Regions from separate parts of the Homo sapiens genome. Here all the other regions are linked to region 1. The links come from fine-mapping of genetic effects on gene expression. A gene starts in region 1. Each other region holds a variant in brackets. All regions are shown on one strand. Distances are between the middles of the regions. Region 1 holds the start of CELSR1 (cadherin EGF LAG seven-pass G-type receptor 1). Region 2 overlaps CELSR1 (cadherin EGF LAG seven-pass G-type receptor 1). Region 3 overlaps CELSR1 (cadherin EGF LAG seven-pass G-type receptor 1).

Evidence for each region.
Region 2: its variant is fine-mapped to the expression of CELSR1 in whole blood (TOPMed, PIP above 0.99). The same link has a PIP of 0.9 or more in blood mononuclear cells.
Region 3: its variant is fine-mapped to the expression of CELSR1 in unexposed skin (GTEx, PIP 0.93). The same link has a PIP of 0.9 or more in sun-exposed skin.

What each region holds. Positions count from the first base shown.
Region 1 is chr22:46,535,214-46,540,451 of GRCh38, forward strand. CELSR1 (cadherin EGF LAG seven-pass G-type receptor 1) reads right to left here and starts at 2,407. Exons shown (of 35, transcript NM_001378328.1): 1 at 1-2,407. The coding sequence starts at 1,957.
Region 2 is chr22:46,364,170-46,369,338 of GRCh38, forward strand. CELSR1 (cadherin EGF LAG seven-pass G-type receptor 1) reads right to left here. Exons shown (of 35, transcript NM_001378328.1): 27 at 5,010-5,089; 28 at 3,560-3,686; 29 at 2,824-2,949; 30 at 2,217-2,311; 31 at 1,417-1,520; 32 at 1,062-1,211; 33 at 343-567; 34 at 1-82. Among named protein-coding and RNA genes, the nearest start is that of TRMU, 31 kb to the left of the region's middle. RefSeq lists an enhancer at 3,737-3,796. The variant C/G (reference allele first, on the strand shown) is at 3,028.
Region 3 is chr22:46,511,858-46,517,095 of GRCh38, forward strand. The region is part of intron 1 of CELSR1 (cadherin EGF LAG seven-pass G-type receptor 1); the gene reads right to left. Among named protein-coding and RNA genes, the nearest start is that of CELSR1, 23 kb to the right of the region's middle. RefSeq lists an enhancer at 2,414-3,330. The variant A/G (reference allele first, on the strand shown) is at 2,973.

The DNA.
Region 1 (5,238 bases):
AGTGCTCCACCTCCTCGCGGTCCAGCTCGGCACACACTGTGATCCAACCGGAGCTGTTGTGGATCTGGAAGGGGAAGTCAGGGGTGGGGGCAGGATTCTTAGGCCCAGCGCTGCCGCCCCCCAGAAAGGTGGAGGCCGTGTCCACCAGGCGATAGTGCAGCCGGGCGTTCTCTCCAGAGTCCGCGTCCACCGCCTGAATGTGCACCACGGGGTAGCCCAGGGGCACATTCTCCAGCACCGTGGCCTGGAAGGGGCTGCTCACAAAGATAGGCTCGTTGTCGTTGACATCCAGCACCTGCACAGACACCACCCCTGAAGAATTGATGAGCGGGGGCCGGCCCCCATCCTGGGCCTTAATGCTCAGCGAGTATTTCTGGACATCCTCGAAATCCAAGGGGTTGATCACATCCAGGATCCCGCTCAGCGAGTGCAGGTAGAACTGGCCGGCCACGTTCCCGCTGAGGATGCTGTAGTGAATGGCCGCGTTCTGGCCCTGGTCCCGGTCCGTGGCCTGCACTCGCAGCACAGCCGTGTTGAGCCCCACGTCCTCGGGCACCTGGACCACGTAGTTCTGCTCGCTGAACTGGGGGTAGTTGTCGTTCTCGTCCTCCACCTCGATGTACACGGTGGCCGTGGCACTGAGCGGGCCCGGATTGCGCCCCTGGTCGTTGGCCTCCACCAGGAGCTGGTACTCGGCCGCCTCCTCCCGGTCCAGCACCGCCCGTGTGCTCACCACGCCAGAGCTCTCGTTGAGCTGGAAGACGTCCCACGCGCCCCCCAACACGCGGTAACGCAAGTTGGCGTTGATGGGCGAGTCGCGGTCGCTGGCGCGGATGGTCAGCACCTCGTAGCCCACCTCCAGGTTCTCCCGCACGCGCTCGCGGTACTCCGACTGCTCGAAGACCGGGCTGTGGTCGTTGGTGTCTTTGACCAAGACAGTGATGTAGGTGGTGGCCGAGCGCGGCGGCGTACTGTAGTCCACGGCTTTCACCCTGAGGACGTGCGTCTCCTTGGTCTCGCGGTCCAGTACGCTGTCCGTGCTCACGGCGCCCGTGGCAGAGTCGATTCGGAAGTAGCCCCGGGAGCGCTCGTCGAACAGCCCCTCCATGTAATAGCTCACGCGCTCCTCCTCGCCCTCGATGGTGTAGTGCGCGTGCAGCTGGAGGATGAGGGTGCCCGCCGGTTCGTTCTCAAACAACGCCACCTGGTAGTTGGGCATCGGAAACTTCAGGCTCCCTCTGCCGCTCGTGCCCCGCCGGGCCCGTCGCGCCGGCCCCGCCCGGGCTTCGGGCAAGTTCGGCGGCAGGGGCGGCGATGGGGATGGCGACGCGGAGGGCGTCCCCGCGGTGGCGGCCTCCAGCGCCAGTCCCACCCGGACGGCGCCAGCCGCGCGCCGCAGGGCGCACAGCAGACGCAGGCGGACCGAGCCGCCCGGCGGCAGGCAGATGGGACGGCCGGGACAGCGGGGCCTGGGGCGCGGCGGGCAGCGGCAGGCGGGTAAGGTGGTCGGAGCTGCGAGCGCCGAATGCTGCGCGGCCGCGCAGCCGCCGGGGACGGGGAAGCAGAGCGCCCCGCAGAGCCGGGCACCGGTTCCGCAGAGCCGGGCACGGGCTCCGCAGCCGGGAAGGTGCGTGCGCGCCCGCAGGCGGCGGCTCAGCGCCGTCGGGGCACTGCGGGCCACCAAGCGGACTTGCAGCGGCAGCGGGCGCCCCGCGCCCGAGACGCGCCGACGTCCTGCCAGCCGCCCATCGCGGCCCACGTCCAGCAGCTCCCGCGGCGCCCGGGGCGTGCAAGCGGCGCCCACCGCGTAGGTACAGCCGGGCCGGAGGGCGAAGGCGCGGGTCCCGCCGGGTACGCGCGGCTCCCAGGCGGCCGCTCGCAGCCCCATCGCCGGCAGGGCGGCGGCGGCGGCCAGGAGCAGCAGCACGGGCAGCACGGGCGGCGGCGGCGGCGCCATGGCCCGGAGCCCGAGCCCGAGCCGGGCGCCCGAACACAATCCATGCACCCGGCGCGCCTCCGCATCCACCCGGCGAGGCCGGGGAGCGGCTCCCGGGCGCCCGGCCCTCGGGGCGGTCCGCGTCCCGCCTCCCCGGGGGCCCTGGCGGGGACTGTGGGGACCACGCGCCCGGCCTCCCCCGCAGCTTCCACTTCGAGAGCACTTTGCGAAAGTTTGCGAAGTTGGTTTCAAGATGGCTCCTCCGCGCGTCCCGGGAGGGCGCCGCGCATCAACCTGCGGCGGCGGCGGCGGCTCCAGGCGGCTCCAGGTGGCTCCGGCGCGGGCTCGGCCGGACGGGCGTGGGAAGCGGGGCGGGCCCGGCGCGGGGCGGGGGCTGAGTTCCCGGAGCGGGCTGGGCAGCTCCGCGCCGCGCAGACCCCGGCGGCCGGCTGCTGCCTGGGCGGTGCGCTTGGCCCGCGCCCACTCCGCCCGCGCTCTCCCCGCCCCCGGCCCGGCCCCGCCCCGCCCCCGGCCCAGCGGCGTATTGTTCGGCCCCGGGGGGAGCCGGCTCGGAGGTGCGCGCCGAGAGGATCGCTATGGAGACGCGAGGGCGCGGCCGGGACGGGGACTGGGGCCCTACTCCCCGGAGGCCTCCCCACCCAGCCTCCCGGTGGGGCGGGGCCGAGGCAACAGGGCCGGGAAAGGTGGGGCTGGGGCCCCCGGTGGCCGCTACCCGTGGGGCGGTGGCTCCGCACCTCGGGCTCGGGGCCGCGGCTCAGAGCCTGGCTCCCCACCCCGGCAGAACAGATCCACGGAGACCGCCGCCAGGAGTGCCGCGCGGGTAGGACCCGGGGGCGGAGGACTGGGGCCGAGAGGCCGGGGAGCCCCCCCCCACCCATTAAGGACTGCGGAGGCTGTCGAGGAGGGTTACCCATTTTACAGCAAGACGCACGGAGGCTAAAATGCTTCACCCCGACTAAAACTCCCTGGACTTTGAAGCCCAATAGGCAGCTACCGGATCTGCGTCCCACTTGGTTTAAAGCGCAACTTTTAAATGAAAGAAGAAAACCCCGGTTGACATAAGGGATTTGGAGAGGACGGCGGAGGCGCGCTCATCTCCCGCGTGCGGCCCGACCCGAGCGTTCGCGGACGCATCGCGGAATCCCCGAGCGTCCGGCTCCTCCCGAAGCGGGTTGCGGGGAAGGCGGGGGGCTGCGGGTCCTGGAAGCTGCCTGGGGCAAGCAAGCACCCGCAGGGATTTAGAGCTGTGCCACAGCCCCTGCCCAGCCTCCTACGGAGGACAGCGGGGGGCGGGGGGCAGAGACCTTAGAGCTTTCAGAAAAGTGACACACACCCCCGCCTCCTGCGGGGAACCACGGGGGGCCGGGGGCAGCTTTAGGTTTGCGTGACGGGTACACCTGCCTCCGGATGGGGCACAGGGATAAAGGGGGTGGAGGCTTAGGACTTGGCGACCCCCCGCATGGGCGGGGCTTTGGGACTGTGCCACCAGCGGCTGGGAAGGGCGCGCACTCCCTTGGTGGCGCTCGGGGCGCCGGAGTCCAGTGCAGCCCTTAGGCCTCCCAGTGGTCGGGGACGGTAGGTGGGGGTCGCCTCTTCTCTCCTAGAAGGGCTTCTCCTGGGGCCGGTCGGAGCGGTGGGGGTGGGAGTAATGCGCAGTCACCCCTAGAACGGGTCTTTTTGGCAAGGGAGGGTCGGATCCTGCAGCCAAATCTCTGAGCTGAGCTGAGATGAGTCCAGTCTCAACGAGGACCGTGGGCGGCTGTGGAGAACCGGAAGGGTTTCTCCCCCGGAGCGATGTGTCTGTGTGTGTGTCACACGCATACTCAGCCAACTTCGCTCAAAGCTGCTGAAACAGTGTCTTTGTGCTGAAGCCCAATGTGAGCATTTTCTTCCCAGTAGCAAGGATTTGAACACGTTATATTGATCTAAAAGGTGGAGTTGCTTTGGAACCTTTTAATTCGAGGTTTCCACTGGAGAGTCCTGTTGGGAAATGTGTGTGTGGAGGGAGGGGAGGAAGGAGAAAAGTCCGTCTCCTTAATGTGAGCGGTCCAGGACCTCCCCACCCGCCATATACCCTTCCACTGGGATTTTTCCGGGAAGGATGAAAGGACAGGAGTTCTGGGGCCGGAAGGCAGGGCGGGTCCCTGAGCCCGGAGCCTCCCAGTGGAAGGCTACTGGGCGGACCTGAAGGGGACCCAGGCAGGAGGAAAAACCAGAGAACCCCAGGAGTGCCTGTTTTGCAATAAGGCTTTAAGCAGAGTGGGTTGGGTTTAAATAAACAAAACTCAGCTGCAGCCAGTGGGTTCAGGTGTGGGCCTGCTTTTCTGGAATAAGGCACCTGCAGGCTGCGAGGTAACCACAGGGACTGCCCAACACCTAGGGACAGGGGAGGATGGATGAATCTCACTAACAGGATGTCCAGCAAAGACAAAAGATCATTCCATTCACGCTTAGACCGACAGCAAGCCCGACTCCACCATAACGTTTAGAGGTGTGCACAAATAGGGGAAAGATGAAGAAAAACAAGGAGGTGATTATGGGCACATTCAGGAGGGCTCTGGGGGAGGAGGGGCATCCCCTTCTGGACCTGAGGGTTACCAGAGTGTCGGCTTCATGATCACACTTTGAACTCCAAACACATGATTTGCGTACTTTTCCCTATGCCTGCATCTAGAGTCGGCAGTTTTTGTTTTTTTTTGTTTTGTTTTGTTTTGTTTTGTTTTGTTTTTTTGAGACAGAGTTTCACTGTTGTTGCCCAGGCTGGAGTGCAATGGCACGATCTCAGCTTACCACAACCTCCGCCTTCCAGGTTCAAGCAATTCTGCCTCAGCCTCCCTAGTAGCTGGGATTACAGGCGTGCGCCTCACGCCCGGCTAATTTTGTATTTTCAGTAGAGACGGGGTTTCTCCATGTTGGTCAGGCTGGTCTCGAACTCCCAACCTCGTGATCCGCCCACCTCGGCCTCCCAAAGTGCTGGGATTACAGGCATGAGCCACCGTGCCTGGCCTATTTTTATTTATTGCTAAATAGAGATGGGGTCTTGCTATGTTGCCTAGGTTGATCTCAAACTTCTGGGCTCAAGAGATCCTCCCACTTCAGCCTCTCAAAGTGCTAGGATTACAGGTATGAGCCACCACACCCTATTTAGAGTCCACAGTTTTATTTTATTTTACTTTATTTATTTTTGAGACGGAGTTTTGCTCTCTCACCTAGGCTGGAGGACAGTGGCGCGATCTCAGCTCAATGCAACCTCCACCTCCTGGGTTCAAGCAATTCTCCTG
Region 2 (5,169 bases), 170 kb before region 1:
AGCTTCTCCCGGAGCCGGCCCTTCAGCGTCTGCTCCGTCAGCGTCAGCGGCGGCGGGTAGGTGACTTTATTTTTCAAGATGCCTGGGAGGAGGAGACACGGCAAGGTCAAGTCCGGGTGATGCTGCCGGGGGCAGCTGCTGGGCCGTGTGCAGCTGAGCCAGCCTCAGCCCCTGTCCTTCCTCCTGGTTCCCCGGGTCCCAGGGCTAGGCCAGGAGGCCACGTCTGTTCTGCCCAGGCCCTGACTTGCCCCACCAGCCCCAGCCCCACTCCCACCTCCAGACCAGGGACTGGCCCTTCTGGGTCCTCCAGCCTTTCACTGCAGCCCCGGCCTCCCCAGGCACCTTTCCTCTGCTCTGGGGGCTGGCTGCTAGCAAGCCTGGCTGCGCCCCCGCTCTCCTGGTCCGGGGGGTACTCTCCACGGTGACTGCCCTGCTCCTCGCGGTGCAGCTCCACGCTGACCTTGGTCTCCACCTTCAGGCGGGGCTTGCCGCTGGGGTCCTCACTGTCACTCTCAGCCAGGCTCTGGTCGGGCCAGCCGGCCGGAACGTGGTTGGCCACAGCGTCCCCTGAGGCACGAGAGCGGTGCTCAGCAGGCAGCGGCACTGCCACTCGAGCTGCTCCCTTGAGAGCCATGGGTCTGGTGGCTCTGACCCACCTCTCCCCAACCTGCAGGCCTGGTAGGGCTGAACCCTAAAGGTGGGGAAACTGAGGCCCAGGAGGGCGAGTCCTGGCAGCAGGGCCCTTGTTGGGAGCCCCCGCCGCATCTGTACCAGTAACTATACAGGCTAATCCCCCACTGGCAGCCTCACCTGGACCTTGCGGTGACAGTCCACAGAGACCCCCCTGAGAGTTCCTGCCTCCGCTCAGGGGGTTGGCCTGGAGGAGCCCTCCAGAGGCTGTGGGGGAGCCCAACCAGAGTCCCCCCACCCCAGGCTGTCCTTTCATGTGGCTGCAGTGCTGCTGGGCATATCCTGGGAGGAAGGGACCCAGCCATAGCCAAGGCCTGCCCCGAGCCCGCTGTCCACAGCCCAGCCTGGCCCAATGTGCCCCACACACTCACCTTTGGGGGTGCTGTGGACGGCGCCCCTGGCCGGGTCCCATTTTTCCTCAGCTCCCACCCCATCGTCCTCGCTGTCTGACGAGTGTGAGGAGGCGTAAGAGCTGCTCTGCTCATCCAGGGACAGCTCGCTATCTGAGTCGGAATCGTGGCCTGTGGATGCGCGGGGGACAGGGAGGCTCAGGCCCTGGGAGGTGAGGGAGTCCCACCGAGGGCCAAGCAGAGCCACTGGGCCCCTGGCATGCTGACGCTGAGCATGGCGAGGCTGCTAGTGCTTCTTCAGGGGCAGTCTGTCCAGTGACCGAAGGGACGTGGGAAAAACAACCCACGGGGTCCTCCCCCTCCAGGGAAGCCATACCAGGGGGATCCTTGCAGCTCCTGGGCATGAGGGACGCGTCTGGCTCTCCGTGGCTGCCCCTCACCAGCCCAGAGGACACGCCGAGCTTCTGGATCCCTTCATCCCTAGAGAGGCCAGGGAGGGTGGGCTCAGTATCATCCGTCAGGGAACAGGAGGTGCTGGAAAGTTCTCTGGAAGATTCTCTGCCCCTACCCCTTCTGTGTTCCCAACAACAGCACAGACAAAACAGCCTCCCGAGTATGTGGGGGAAAGGTGGTGGGGGGAAAGGTTGGGTGGGGGGAAGGTGGTGGGTGGAAAGGTTGGGTGGGGGAAGGTGGTGGGGGGAAAGGTTGGGTGGGGGAAGGTGGTGGGGGGAAAGGCTGGGTGGGGGAAAGGTGGTGGGGGGAAAGGCTGGGGGGGAAGGTGGTGGGGGGAAAGGTTGGGGGGAAGGTGCTGGGGGAAAGGTTGGGGGGAAAGGTTGTCAGGGGAAAGGTGGAGGGGGAAGGTGGAGGGGGGAAGGCTGCGGGGGGAAGGTGCAGTGCGGGGAAGGTGCGGGGGGGAAGGTTGCACGGGAAAAGGTTGGTTGGGGGAAGTTGGTGGGGGAAAGGTTGTTGGGGGAAGGTGCAGGGGAAGGGAAGGTGCGAGGCGGGGAGGGAAGGTGCGGGGCAGGGAGGGAAGTTGCGGGTGGGAAGAAGGTGCGGGTGGAAAGTTGGGGGTGGAAGGTGATGTTGGTTGAATGGCAGGACACAGGTTGGGGTGGCAGGGGCAAAACCTGAGGGAGTTCGAGAGCCACCTCCCCGAACCCGGAGCTGCGGCCTGACCTGACGATGCTGTCCAGCGAGGCGGTGGACTCGCCCAAGTCTGTGCGCAGCATGTCAGGCCCGTCACCGAAGGTGGTGTTGCAGTTGAGGGAGCGCTGAAGGGAGGGGAGGGGCTGGTCACTGCCAAGTGGTGGCCACCACATGACCACCACGGGGAATGACTCTGTCCCCACGGCAAGCCCCCCACACCCACACCCTGGCTGGGCCCCTGCCTGGCACACAGGAGGAGCTGGCCCCAAGCAGTCAACCCTCACTGCAAACGAGAGCCTCCTGGCAGCTGAGGGAAGCACATCCTGGCCCGCGCTGTGGTCAGGGGCTGCCGCCCTCCCTACGGCCACTGCTTCTGGTCAGGATCCTCGGTGGTCCTGACCCTCTCTTTCTAAGGCCTGGAAGAGCAGGGTTAGGATGCGACCCAGGCCCCATCTGGCCGATTCTGTCACTTTCTGGTTCTGACGCGGCAGCCACACCGTGCACCGCGGGCGGCTCTGCCATCCCCACCGTGAGGGGCATACGGGCCGCAGGACTGGGGCTGAGGCTCGATCACCCTCCCCCGCCCCTCGAGATGCCGCCCAGCCCCCAGTCCCGCGGTGTCCCCGGCGCCTCCTACCGTCAGCAGGGTGGCCCTGGTGGTGGCGGAGTCCTCCAGGTGCAGCTTCCTCCCGCCGAGCACGCCCTTCAGGTGCTTCCGGACCTCCTGGTTGAGCACGCAGTGGAAAAGGAGGACGAAGGGGCCCTGGAGGGAGGAAGGTGGGGTCAGCACCTGCTGCTGCCTCCCTAGGCACCTGCCCTTAGGCGCCCCAGCACAGATGCG[C/G]ATACAGCCTTGAGTGCACACAACATGTCCGGCCACACGGCCCAGGACACGGCCAGGCCTCCCCTCCTCAGGGACTGCTGCTATCTGGAGGCCAGGTGGGGGAGCTCAGAAACTGAGATGCCTGGGCCAGACCCCCGGTGTGCTGGAGGCAGTGAGGGCCCCGGCTCAGGCCAGTCTTCTGGGCACTCCTTCCACAGTCCTTGGGGCCCCTCTGGGGTCCCCACTGTGTCGTAAGTCCACTTGCTGTGTGGCCCTTGGTATGACTAGAAATGGCCACTTCTGTTCCCTGGAGACACAAGTGGACTTGTGCTGGCCTGGCACTAGGGTCATCGTCCCCAGACACAGTGGGGAGGAGGCACCAGCCCCCGTGCCGGCTGCACAAGGGACTGAGTCCTCACAGCCACAGGAGGCCCCCACGCGGGACCCAGGCAGGGCTGGTTTGGGACCGCAGAGGCCTCCACTGCTTCGCATCACAGCGATGGTGTCACGGCGGCCAGGCAGGGGTCCCGCGGGCAACTCGGCCGTCACCTACCTGTAAGCCGCTGAAGATGGCGAAGAGGTAGTGAAAGCTCAGTGCATCGCGGTTCACAGCCAGCAGCCCCAGCAGCCAGGTGGCGCTGATGAGCAGCAGCAGGAGGAATGCGGTCCTCAGCAGGGAGCTGCGGGAGGGCAGGATCAGGCCTGTGCCCATCGCCACCACCTGCTCCCTTCCTCCCTCCCTCTCTGCACGTCCACCTGTCCACCTGCCTGCCCGTCCGCCCATCTATCTGTCCGTCCACCTGTCCACCCAGCCATCATCCACCTTGCTCCCTTCCTCCCCTCGTAGCCAGGTACGGACTCATCCGGGAACCAGACAGAGCTCGTGTTAGTGGGGGTGGTGGTGGAATACATTAGGAAGCAAATGAGAAAACAGGAGCTGTGAGGACTACACCAGGCCAAGGGGCCTGAGCCATGCCCATGGCTGCACTAGCTCCCGTGAGATACCCTGTGGAGAGGCAAGAGGAAGAGCCCAGGACCTGCCCTTGAGCTGTGACCCTGCAATCAGCTTCCTGAGCTCTGCCTCAGTCTCCCCATGTGTACAAGGGGAAGACAAAGGCGCATCCCCTCCCAGGGTTCAGAGGGGATGGAGTGAATCCGGGTGACAGAGCCCGCAAGGTCCACAGGTCGTGGATGGCACTGAAGACGAGGAACTGACAAGGCCCCAGACCCCCCGTGCACCCCCATATCCGGCCTTCCAGGCCACTCACTGCCTCTCCCTCTCTGCCCTACCCCCCTTCAGACTCGGCTCTCTCCTCCCGGGCCGGGAGCCTCACACTCCTCCTGACACCCAGCCCCTGCGCAAGCATTATCCCTTCGCCCATCCCTGGCTCAGTCCCATCTCAGCTACCAGGTCACCAGGGGCTGGCCTTGTTGTCTGACAGATGCCCCCGTCAACCCCTCCTGACCCTGTCGTGGCTCCTGGACGCTGTGCTGAGTCCTCCCGCGGTGCCACCTGCTCCTTTGGGGCCTCGAAGGTCCCCTCTCCTCCCTAGAACACTGGAGGTTCCCTCTGTGCTGGGCCCCTGTTCCACTGCACCCTCTGACAGTGGGGTGGGGGGGTCTCCTCCCCTCCAGTGGCCTCAGCAACACCCTCACCACCCACCAGAAAGTTTCATCTCCCCCACCCCACCCATCTCCACTCTGGGGATTCCAGACAGCCCAATACTTCTGTGCCAGGCGGGAGGGACTGAGGCCCAGGACTGGCTGCCAGCCCCCTCCCTTCAGCTAACCTCCTCCAGCCCCCTCCCCTCAGCTAACCTCCCCCAGCCCCTGCAGGTGCAACGTGGCAAACCTCTCTGGAGCCCTGGGGCTCACCCAGGCTGCCCCCAGCCCTCCTCCATGAGGCCTACACGCTCTCATGGGGCCCCACCCCGCAGAGACTGGACGTCGGGGTCTCAGGGCCCAGCCGACATGGCTGGCCGGTCAGGTTCAGCCCCACTTACACGATCCCTTTTTTCCCATAATAATGGTGCTTTCTTTGGCAGGAAACCTTTGCAGATAGGACAGAAGTGACTGTGTTGATCTGAAAACAAAACAAGCCGATCAATGTCTTCTCTCTCGTCACTGCAGACCTCCAACTGCCAAAAGCGCCTGAGGCCCTTC
Region 3 (5,238 bases), 23 kb before region 1:
AACATCCCTCGGTCATTAGACACAATGACCCGCCTCTCTGCTCACTGCTCATCCCAGGCACTAGGTAAGAGCATCCCCTGCCCGGATGACATGACGGTCACCTCCTGCTTTTCTCCTGGTGTCAGCTCTTACAATTCTGCCAGGATGTCCTTCATGCTGCCTCCGAGAAACGCAGCAAGTCATTCAGGTTCTGGGGTCCTGAAGTGCCCCGAGCCCACCCCCAGATCCCAGCCCAGTGGCCCCCACGCTGCCAGGAGCTCTCAGTGTGGCAAACACAGCAGCAGCAAGAGTGACGGCGGCGCTCATAAGCCCTTACTAAGCGTGCTGCCCTCGAGGGCTCACAGCTAGGGGCAGGTGTCCCGGATTTGCAGAGGAGGACCAAGAAGCACTCAGGGACTGAGGTGTCAGCCCCCAAATCAAGGTCCAATACTGGCCAGGTGCGGTGGCACATGCCTGTAATCCCAGCACTTTGGGAGGCCAAGGCAGGCGGATCACATGAGGTCAGGAGATCGAGACCATCCTGGCCAATATGGTGAAACCCCATCTCTACTAAAATACAAAAAAATTAGCCCGGTGTGGTGGTGTACACCTATAATCCCAGCTACGTAGAAGGCTGAGGCACGAGAATTGCTTGAACCCGGGAGGCGGAGGTTTCAGTGAGCCGAGATCACACCACTGCACTCCAGCCTGGGTGAAAGAGTGAGACTCCATCTCAACAACAACAAAAAATCAAGGCCCAATACTATGCATTGCCTTGACATCTGCTGAAGCCAGGAGGCCTCAAATGGCCTCACCACAGGTCCCCCGCCCCACTCTGCTCCTTCGGATAAGATCCCTCCACAGTCAACCCTTCTTGTCACGGGGATCAGGCACAGCTCCTGCTTATAGAGGGTAGCGGGTTTCCGTTCCCTGCCATCCAGAGGAATTATTCAGACAAGCTACCCATGTGCCCCTGCAAGAACCAGGGGCCCCCCACCCTCTTGTTCCTTCCGGGTCCGGGCTTGTCCCCCACAGCACCTGGCTGTCCTCTGCTCCTGAGTGCTGCCCCGGGTGGCCCCGCATGGCAGGCGACGTCCTCCTCCAGGCTGGGCCTCTGTGCTACTCACGCACTGCTGCTGACCTCATCTGTCCAGTGTCAGGTGCTCAGCAATCCCCATCATCCTAGGACGGGAATCCATCCCTCCCCAGTGGAGTGAATAGGAGGCCATTTAACCAGTGAGTGACTTCTGGGGCGAGATTCAAACCCGCGACCACCATCACGGGCGCCTCTCAAAATCACGCGACTGGGGACAATACACCTGGGGACTAGGCCATGTGGGCTCAACGCTGCTGCAGTGAGCCAGAACACATGAAGGAAACACTCAAGGAAAGGCGGTATCCAACTACGGCCTTTATTCCTCTACTATCAGGCAACACAGGGAAGAGTGTTCATGATCACGAGAGGCAACATGGCCTGTAAGTGTGCAAGAGGATTAAAAATACAAGTTCAAAAGCATTCCCCACGTGGGGTCCTGAGTTTTACAGGACACTTAAACCAGCCCACATACCTGACCATACCAAGAAGTCCAATGCAGTCACACAAAAACATGTACACTAAAAGGGAGGCAATCCAACACACTTCAAGTTGCAACTTGAGTATTTCAAGCAATATTCTCAACCATAAAATCTTAGGAGCCAAGATCAATGTGGGGAGGCCTTAGGTTTACCATAATGAGACACTGCCTGTACACTGTTATAATTGGCCCTTATCTCGTGCACCAGGGATAGGAGTCCCAGCCCTGCAGTGTGCACTTCCTACGGGCAGCAACACTTCTGTTTACTCCGTCACTACATCCCCAGAGCCAACACTCACCTGCGCAGAGAGCCTCCTAATAAATACTGGTTGGAATATGGCCCAGAAGCTCAAAGCCATAGATAAGTTTATTAATACTTTTTGTTGTTGTTGTTGTTTTGAGACGGAGTCTTGCTCTGTCGCCCAGGCTGGAGTGCAGTGGCACAATCTCAGCTCACTGCAGCCTCTGCCTCCCGGGGTTCACGCCATTCTCCTGCCTCAGCCCCCCCCGAGTAGCTGGGACTACAGGTGCACGCATCCACACCCAGCTAATTTTTGTATTCTTAGTAGAGACGGGGTCTCACCTTGTTGGCCAGGATGGTCTCGATCTCCTGACCTCATGATCCACCCGCCTCACCCTCCCAAAGTGCTGGTATTACAGGCACGAGCCACCGCACCCGGCCCTCATTTGTAATTTTTCACAGCTCTTTACTTGTCTTGTCTACACTTTTCTCACATCCCAGCACCCACCTGGGAAAGGTTCCTGGGGTCAGAATCATCTGACCTTGACTGTGGGTCTTTCCCACCCAGGTAGGCTCCAACACCAGGGGAATCCCACCCAGTCCTCGAGATGACAGTGTCAAAAACCCAGTAAGCGAGACTACTCACAATGGAGCCGGCATTTCTGAAGGGTGATTATTTAAGCCACACCTCAACTGCGGGCCTATGTGATGCTGAAGCTCTTCCACCCAGACGTTTCACCAGGCCCCGACGGTCCATCCAGGTGAGGGCTGGAGTCAGGTCCACCTGCACTCTGATCCCCGGGGGCCCAAGGCCACACACCTCTGGCTGCCAGTCAGTCAGAACCAGTCCTGGTGAGGTGGGGAGTGGGGGCATGAAGGATGTGGCCTGAGGACACCCCAACAGCATCTGTGTATCACCGCCAGACCCTTGCTGAAAGTCAGGGATAATGCAATGGCCCCTCTCAGCACCTCCCCAGACCTCCCCAGACTCTGTGGTCCCTCCTCCCAGCATCAAAGAGAAGAGTCACTCCCCGGAGGGAGCCGGGGCTGCAGGGCCGAGGCTCACGGCTGGGCTCTGGAATAAGAGGGGTGTTTCTGAATGAATTGCCCAGCCCTGTCCTGCCTCGCTGAGTCATTCCCAAGTCAGCAAGCACAAGTCACTGCGGGAAAAGCTCTGG[A/G]GCTGCCACCCCTTCCCACCCCAGGGATGCCTGTCCGTACCCGCCGTCAATCCAGCCCTCAGGCCTGGGGGATGAGCACCTCAGACGTGCTCTTTGCAGCTGGCATCCGCTCCAAACTCCATGCCTCCCCACAAAAGTGGCTCTGTCCAAACCCCAGCCCTCTTGGGCCCTGGCAACCAGCCTAGTCCTCGCCAGCCCCTTCTAGAAAGCACCCCCAGCACCCCCTCAGCTTCAGCCTGGGCTGAGAAAAGGCTGTCTGGCAGCGTGGACCCCCCTCAGCGTCCCAGCAGAGCCAACCCCCCCCGGGGACACTCATGGGACACAGCATGGGCAGTAGGAGCCATTCCACCCGTGCATCAGCCCTCTGGCCACACTCTGGGACCTCATGGCCCTGCCCACCACTCCCAGCCCACAGCCAGGCAAGTGACCCCCACCTGGGCCCTCCTGGGGAGAGCTGCACAGCTGTCGGCAGCACAGCTGGAACCACAGCCCAGCGGTCTCAGTGCGTATCACAAAGGCTAGCTTGTGAGTGGATGCTCCCAAGTCACATGACCCCCAGGTAGGAAGGTTTGCACATGTTTCATCAGGGTAAAGGGAAAGAGGCTCACCTTAAACACAAACTCTATGAAGGCCTTAGACAGAAAATAGGAAAGCATGACAGTCTGTGTCTCCATGGTGAAGTCAGCTCTGGGAGGGCTGAGCCTGATGCAGAGTGGGTGTGCACAAGCTGCAGGGCACCCCGGGGGCTGGAGGTGGAGGACACAGCCAATAGGACGGGCCTCAGTCACACAGTGCTCAGGGCTGGGGACTCAAAGGCACAGAGGCTGAGGCTTTGTAAGTCCTGCTGGGGGATCAGGGGATGACTAAGTCACTGGGGCCTCCCCAGCCTGGCAGGCTCCTATCTGTGTAACAGGCTCCCAGCAGCCAGTGTAGGAAGGCAGCCCCGGCAGGAGGATACACCAGGACATTCCGCCCATCCTGCAGATCTCCAGCACTGACCAGCATCCACAGCACAGTCGACTGGGGTTAAGAAAGTAGGAATGAGTTCAGAGAAATGCAAATCAAAACCACAATGAGATATCATCTCACACCAGTTACAATGGCGATCATTAAAAAGTCAGGAAACAACAGGTACTGGAGAGAATGTGGAGAAACAGGAACACTTTTACACTGTTGGTGGGACTGCAAACTAGTTGAACCATTGTGGAAGACAGTGTGGCGATTCCTCAAGGATCTAGAAGTAGAAATACCATTTGACCCAGCCATCCCATTACTGGGTATATACCCAAAGGATTATAAATCATGCTGCTATAAAGACACATGCACACGTATGTTTATTGCGGCACTACTCACAATAGCAAAGACTTGGAACCAACCCAAATGTCCACCAATGATAGACTGGATTAAGAAAATGTGGCACATATACACCATGGAATACTATGCAGCCATAAAAAATGATGAGTTCATGTCCTTTGTAAGGACATGGATGAAGCTGGAAACCATCATTCTCAGCAAACTATCGCAAGGACAAAAAACCAAACACCGCATGTTCTCACTCATAGGTGGGAACTGAACAATGAGAACACTTGGACACAGGAAGGGAAACATCACACACCGGGGCCTGTTGTGGGGTTGGGGGAGTGGGGAGGGATAGCACACCGGTTTTGGGGGGTTTTTTAAAATTTTTTTTTATAGACACAGGGTCTCGCCATGTTGCCCAGGCCGGTCTTGAACTCCTGGCCTCAAGCAAGCCTCCTGCCTCGCCTCCCAAAGTGCTTGGGATTAGAAGCATGAGCCACCACACCTGGCCAGGACATACTTTTCAAAGCTCATTTGCTGCCACCTTGACACCTCCCAGGTAATTTCCTCGACCAGCTCATGTTATGTGGCTCCTCCGGCCCAACGGACCACAAAGTCCATTCCCTCCACTTCTCACCCAGGCACACGACTCTCTCAGGACACAGGCAACACCCTATGTTGTGCCAGGCAGGAAGCTGCGGGGTGGGGACTGGCAGGAAGGCAGGCGGCCGAGGGCTGTCCCCTCACCCTCCCTCCCCGTTTCCCACTGCAGCTGACCCCCACTGACCCATGCCCAGAATCCCACCTAAACCAGTGTCACGGCTGGCAAAGCCATGGGATGCCCTTTTCGTGTTTTAAAGCAAAGGAACCTTTATCACCCATAAGGGATGAGCTGGGCTCATCCACTTCCTGAGGCTGGTGACTCTGGGGGAAGAATCCAGAGGGTCTGGCTCTGGCCAGGGCAGGT